Linked DNA regions of Homo sapiens. The protein of the gene in region 1 purifies or fractionates together with the protein of each later gene. This does not show direct contact. Each region holds a gene or a part of one and is shown in the gene's direction. Other genes may lie near its edges.

The links.
Region 2: the proteins of FERD3L (region 1) and CORO2A purify together in Homo sapiens (affinity purification with mass spectrometry; one large-scale study listed by BioGRID and IntAct). This does not show direct contact.

The regions. Positions count from the first base shown.
Region 1 is NC_000007.14:19,143,987-19,146,701, reverse strand, and holds FERD3L (fer3-like protein), read left to right. Parts: upstream 1-1,280; 5' UTR 1,281-1,339; coding exon 1,340-1,840; 3' UTR 1,841-1,920; downstream 1,921-2,715. UniProt on the Homo sapiens protein: Transcription factor that binds to the E-box and functions as inhibitor of transcription. DNA binding requires dimerization with an E protein. Inhibits transcription activation by ASCL1/MASH1 by sequestering E proteins.
Region 2 is NC_000009.12:98,189,737-98,194,022, reverse strand, and holds the start of CORO2A (coronin-2A), read left to right. Parts: upstream 1-1,385; 5' UTR 1,386-1,464; intron 1,465-4,286.

The DNA.
Region 1 (2,715 bases):
CAAACAAAGAAAAAGAACCTTTTTGTTAAAATATTTGGGATACTCGAGATAATATAAAATGAGTAATCTCTTATTTTTCTTATGCCAAATTTAAAATCTCTTTCTTTTCTCAAAAATAACGATCTAACGATAGCCAAAAACTCCCTTAAATATATTTCAATAAATCATTGTTTCTGCACTTAAGTCTTACTGTAGGACAATACAAATCAATGAGGAAAATACGCCAGATGGAAGTGTTAGGTTTTTTTCTTTGTTCGGGAACAAATACTCGATCCGCAATTTAAAAGTCCGAAGACTCCTCAGCAGAGGGTGAGCTGATTGACTCTTTGGCTTATCAAGGGCAAATCGCATTTCTGAAAAGAGCTTGAAGTGGTTTTGTTTGTGAGGAGAGTTTGCTTTGTCCCCCACACTGAAAAGTATACAGCAAAGCCCGAGCATAGAAAATATCCTGAGCTTAAATTTCTCATTTTATTGCCATCATAACTTTTCCTCTTGGAATAAAATCCTCTATTTTATATGAGTAGGAGGTAAAGGTAGGGAAAGGAAAGTCAAGTATCTCAATTGTTACGCTGATTGCATCCAAACAGACTTTAGAAGTCAGGGTTTGTAACGTGGCAGGAGAGCTGTTTGCGATGCCCTGGAAAGAAAAGAAAGCCGGTTCCAACAGCGACTCTGGGGAATGCACTCTCGGTCCCCCTGCCATGCTTACTTAAGCTAATTGAAGGTCTTGCCTTTCAGCAGCCGCTGCACTGGGATACCAGACAAACAGCTCCCCTTGATGCCAGGCAGGCAGGGCCCCTCTTCAGGACATCATTAAAAGCACATGCACTTGCTCCACATCCATTGGCAGATGGTGGCAAGATTCAAGACTCCTACCCTGAAGTCAAGGAGAAGCCATCGCGGTGGAAAACATCCTCGCTTTGAAAATCCAACACGAAATTAAAGAACTACACGAGATAAGGAGCCTGGAGAACATTAGTTGGCTGCAGGGGTGAAGACAGACACAAAAAGCACAGCAGGTAAGAGCTGGGGGTTGTTGCCAACAAGGAACTGTCCCGGGTGGCGCAGAGAAAAGGATCTCAGAACTGGAGCCCTGTCCCTTTGAGTCTTCCATGCGTGCTCAAGCTTGTCATCTTCCATAAGCTTCGAGAGAAGGGACGTTGTCAGAGCATTCCTTATCGGTGCGACTAATCCTGTTATCAGCTTGGTTATAAATATTTAATGTTCCCTGGCCTTTCGGTGATGGTGCCCCATCAGATTCAAGGCTGTTAAGAATCCCCACCAGCAACCTCGCCCCTCCCTGCGGAAAACCGATGAGAGGCAGGGCCAAGCCGAAGCGATGGCGGCCTATCCGGAGAGCTGCGTGGACACTACGGTGCTGGACTTCGTCGCAGACCTGTCCCTGGCCTCCCCGAGACGCCCTCTCCTCTGCGACTTCGCACCCGGGGTCTCCTTGGGGGACCCAGCCCTTGCGCTCCGAGAGGGAAGACCCAGGAGGATGGCGCGGTTTGAAGAGGGGGACCCAGAAGAAGAGGAGTGCGAAGTGGACCAGGGGGACGGAGAAGAGGAGGAGGAAGAGGAGCGCGGAAGAGGTGTCTCCCTATTAGGCCGCCCCAAGAGGAAAAGGGTGATCACCTACGCCCAGCGCCAGGCCGCCAACATCCGCGAAAGGAAGCGGATGTTCAACCTCAACGAGGCCTTTGACCAGCTGCGGAGGAAGGTGCCCACGTTTGCTTACGAGAAAAGGCTGTCCCGGATCGAGACCCTCCGCCTGGCCATCGTCTATATCTCCTTCATGACCGAGCTCTTGGAGAGCTGTGAGAAGAAGGAAAGCGGCTGAGCCTGGTGTGGAGAGTCTGCCCTTCCTCGTCTGGTAGTGCTGGGGTGTGTCAGGACCGGGCACTGGGTGAGGCTAAAGGGCCGGGAGGGAGGCCCCAAGACAGAACGTCTGGTCTTCTGGAGGTCGGGGTCGAGATTGTAAGATCCCCACATGCGCTGAGCAGAGTGGCTGCTGTAGAGTTCATATCTACGCGACCGCCCTAAGTGAAGTCGGGGTCAGGGGCGAGCGGGGAAGTCAGAGAGCGTGAGGCTGAGTCGGGGCCGTTCAGGCTGCTCCTAAGAGCTTCCGTGGGCTGGGTGGGTGGGAAGTGAACCCTCCTCGCAAATGGCAGACTTTGGAGCTTCTATAAAATCTAACCTCTCTTCTTTACATTTTTTTTTTCATAGAGATAATAAAGTAGAAATTCTTACGTTTTTAAAAAGCCTGAAGGGTCGGTGGTACGCCATCCCCAGCAGGCGCTCCAGCGGGCGCCTGCGTGGAGGGTCTGAAGCAGACGCCGCAAGGGTGCGGGGGTGCGAGCTTTTCTGCTAGCCAGAGGGTTCTGCCTGGTCCTCCGAGGCTTGTCCAGGAACTGAGGAAAGGAAAAATGGAAGGCAGAGCAGTCGAGAGGAACTGCTGACAAAGTGCGACCTCTGAGAAGGGACACCCTTCCTGTCTTCCATTCCCTCTCCCTCCCGTCCCTTCCTCTCTCCCGCGCGCAAGCCCTCTCTCTTCCTTTCTCCCTCCCCTTCGCCACCTAGTTGATCCCAGACGGACCACAGCTCCTTGTCCCAGGGCCACAGTGGTGTTCATTCAGTGCCTTAGCCAGAGTGCAAATCTACGCTTTGCATCTAAAGTGCAGCATCAGCTTCCGTGTTCCAGTGCCTTCTTCAGGC
Region 2 (4,286 bases), on another chromosome or scaffold:
AGCCACTGCGCCCAGCCATCCATATGCTTGATACCCAACTCTTGCACGCTAACACCAGAAGCATGCGTTCAGTCTACCTGCTGGGCAATCCAGCTCCAGAAGGTCTGAATCAGAGCTGTAGGATGGGGTTTTCAGGACCATAGTGCACACTGGGCTTTGGGTGGTAGGCAGGGAGCCCGTCCAGCTCTGGGCAGGGGGGTGGTACAGTGGACTATGGAAGCTGAGTCACATTCTAAGGAGAGAATCAAGAGCTCCCTAAGTACCTTGCCACTCCAAGCCTCAGTTTTCTTATCTGTAAAATGGAGGTAATAATAGTGGCTAAATAAAGCCACTATTATTAGAAGCTTAGAAGAAACGATACAGATATGTAAAGTAGTAACAGTGTACTCTGTTATCCACTCCACAACTATATATTGAGTGGTTACTATGTGCCACGGAGCAGTTCAAGGCCCTCAAGATAACCCGTCTCTACTGAACAAAACCAAGAGCTCTTCACAGACGTGGTGTGGAGTGGAGTGGCTGTTAGCTTAGTAGCCGTGGGAGCCATACTGCCTGGGGTTGCATGACTAGCCGGGTGATCTTAACCTAGGTACTTAATATCTCTGTGCCTCAGCTCTTTTGTGTTAAATAGGTGAGTAATGGTATCAACCTCATAGGCCTGTGTGACAGTGAAGCGAGGTAATGCACAGAAGGCGCTTAGAGGAGTGCGTGGCTCAGTAGTGTTAGGTGGGGGTGGTACCCAAAGGTAGGGCCTCCCCATTGTCTAGTGTCCTCAGGGCTCTCCAGCCAGCGAGGCTGGCAGCAGCGCCCCCGGCTGGTCCCGAGAGAAGGAAGGGCGTCCTCCTCGGTTCCCAGCGGCGCTCCCGGCTCCTCTCCTCCCTGCGGACGGGGAAGCCTCGGTAACCGCTGTAACTGCTCGGGGAAAGGAGCGCTTCCCTGGCCGGGCTCGGCGCGCGCACTGTACCCGGCCGGGATCGTCACATCCAGGGCTCAAACAGCCTTAAGAGGCCGACGCGGTTACTGTCTCCATTTCACAACGGGGGAAACTGAGGCTCCGGGAGGTCAGGTTCCTCATCCCACACCACGCAGCGAGGGCACGGCGCGACGTGGGGCCCGCGGCTCTGCCTGTCCCCAGCCTCCGCCTGGTGGCCGGCAGCCCGCCCCAATCACTGCGGCGTGTGCGCGCCTGTTCCCAGCACGTGTGCGCGCCCCGAGACCCGCCCCGGGGAGCCAGGAGCGCGGTCGGGGTCGTGGGGGCGGAAAAGGGTGGCCAGGGCGGACCCGCGGGGCGGGCAAAAGGGCGGACCTTGGGCCAGGCCCCCGCCCCGCCCTCCGGCCCCGCCCGCCGGGCTGCAGGGGGAGGCGGCGGCGGCTCTGGGCGCCGGGAGTCGGCGGGCGGCGAGGAGCGCGGAGCCGGAGCTGGACGCCGCCGCCGCCACCGCCACCTGCGCGGCAGTCATCAAGGTAGGGCGGCCCTGCGCCGCCGGCCGTGCCTTCCCGGTCTGCGCGATGGGGGCGTCGGGCGGGACGTGCGCGCTGCGGCTGCAGCTCCCGGAGAGGGAGGGATGCGGGGCTCGGAGCGCGGGGGACCTGGCTTTCAGCCCCTTTGCGTGACCTTGCACAAAGCACTGCTCCTCTCCAGGCCTCAGTTTCCCCGTCAGGATAGCTTGCTCATTGGTGGCCCCCTTCTCGCGGGGTTGTTGGGAGGGGCCGCCTCGAGGTCCGGGCTCCCGACGGCTCGCTGCCCTCATGAGCACTGTCTGCACCGCCCACCCCTCCTGCCCGCGGTGAGGGAAGCTCACTCTGGGCGCGGCCAGCCGGTCCCGACAGGCCCCTGCTGTGGCCCGGGTGCTCCATGGGACTCTTGTCGGGACCCTCCCCCTCTTGGCTGCGTTACCTGCTGGGCCTCAGCTTCCTGGTACAGGAAACGGTGGGGTGGGGGGCATCCCCGGGTCCCCGCCAAGCCGGCCTGGGCGTGCATGTGGGGCATCAGCCGGCCCGCCAAGAGGGTTTACTCGTCTGGGGCTGGAGGAGCCCTAGGTTGGAGGTGGCTGGACTCCTGGCGGCACGACTGCCTGGACCAGCCCCACGTAGGCACCTCGATTTAGAGAGTGGTATAGGATAGCTCCTTCCCCTTCCCCACCCGGGCCAGGTGCTGGTGCCTAGCTCTGTGTCCCAGAGCTAGTGTGTGATAAGGTGTGACACACACTAGCTGGTGTGACAAGGGGTGACTGGCGGCCACGCCTGGACCTCAGAGGGGTGACAGTGCCAAGGTGCTGTGTCCGCGTGGCATTAAGGGATGGGGCAGAGCACAGGTCTGAGGGACTGTGGTCCCAGGCTCCCTAGGTAAAGAAGACCTATGGCATCTGGCCCAGCCCCTCTGTAAGATCCCCTCTGGAAGGTCTTGCTGCCCCCTTGCACACTCCTTGTGATAGGAATCTCACTAGTTGTAAACCAAGCTGGAATCTGCTACCCAGTCACTGCCTCTCCTGCTGGTCCTGCTCTGGACACACAAACAACCTCTGACCCTTCCTCCCTCACCCTGGGGCAGTGGTCAGGTCCCTTAAATATGCTCATCTCCAGACCCAGCAGCCCCAGGCCCAGCAGTTTCTCCCATCAGATCCCAGGGAGCCAAGGCAAGAAGAGGGAGCCGAGGTGTCTGCCCTGGAGCAGGCTGTGGGGCCTCCGCTTTCCTGGGGCTTGTTCAGAACCCACCTGTGCATCAGGACTGGAATGTGTCTCCCCAGCTTCCTGCCCCTCCTGGGGACCGTCTGAGAGGTCCGGAGTGAGGAGAGCCGGAGCCCCTCTGCAGGCCTTTCCTGCCCCATGGGGCCTCTTCTCCACCTCCCTGATGCCTGCCCTGTTTGAGGGAGCAGTTTCTAGGAATCACTTCTCAGCCTCCTGGTCTTTCTTGTCCCCTTCATGACCTGCCCTGCACCCAGGGATTTTCTTAACAGCCAAAAGAGGGCAGGAGGCCCCTGGACAGGTAGTGAGCTCTTTGTCATCACAGGTATTCAAGCAGAACCTGGGGGTGAGCTACCTTGGACTGAAAGTCTATGGAATTCTAGGGCTGAAGTAGTGCCTATGACCTTGCCCTGCGGCCATGGTGGAGCTGCACAGGACTGGGAGCTGGACCACAAATGAGTGTTATTATCCCCTCGTAAAAGCAGGCAAAGTATATGTGCTGGCCCATGAGCCCAGCTCCGACGCACAGGCTTAAGTGCTACCTGGGTCTCCTGTCATCTCGACACATGTATAATCTGGGCCCTGTTTTCCTGCTTGCCTAATTCAAGCCTTTTTGGCCTGATTTAGGAGCATGGCAGATTCTGGTTATTAAAAAGTCATGCTATGACTTTAATTGCTAATACTTTTTAAATGCACCATGGAATCATGGAATGTCTGAGCTGAAAGGAGCCTTCAGACGTCGTCTCATTCAACCCCCTCATTTTACAGATAGGCATCCCCTGTCGCCAGAGGGGATGTGACTGGGCAAAGGTCACACAGCAAACCAGCAACCGAGCCCAGGGATCCTGATTCCAAGATTGGAGTGCCTTTTTTTCTCCAAAAAAACACATAACATATAATAAATGAAAGCAGTCTGTATTTATTCCTGTAAAATTAGCAAAAATAAAAATAAAAAGATGAAACTCTGTGCTGGCAAGGCTATAGGGATTCGCCTGTGGCATTTAATTTTGCAGAGCAACCTGGCAGCCTGTTATCATGAAAATGATCATATTTGCCCTTTGCCCTTAGCCGGCTACTTTGGGGACTTTATCCTAAGGAAGTAACTAGGGAGAGAGACATATGTAGTGCTGTTATTTGTAAGAAGTTGTCTTCTGGCCAGGCACAGTGGCTCATGCCTGTAATCCTAGCACTTTAGGAGGCCAAGGTGGGCGGATCACCTGAGGTCTAGAGTTTGAGACCAGCCTGGGCAACATGATGAAATCCTGTCTGTACTAAAAATATAAAAATTAGCTGGGTGTGGTGGCACATGCCTGTAATCCCAGCTACTCGGGAGGCTGAGGCAGGAGAATCACTTGAACCCGGGAGGCAGAGGTGGCAGTGAGCCGAGATTGTGCCACTGCACTCCAGCCTGGGCGACAGAGCGAGACTCCATCTCAAAAAAAAAAAAAAATAAAGGAGTTGCCGTCTAGTGAAGAAGTGTTCAGTTTTATCTGAGGCTTAATAAACATTTCATTTGACAAATACAGCTTAAAAAATAGTGGCACTGAAGCTTACATTACCGGAGTCTGGCCAGCATAGAAACAGTTTAATCCAGAAGAAAG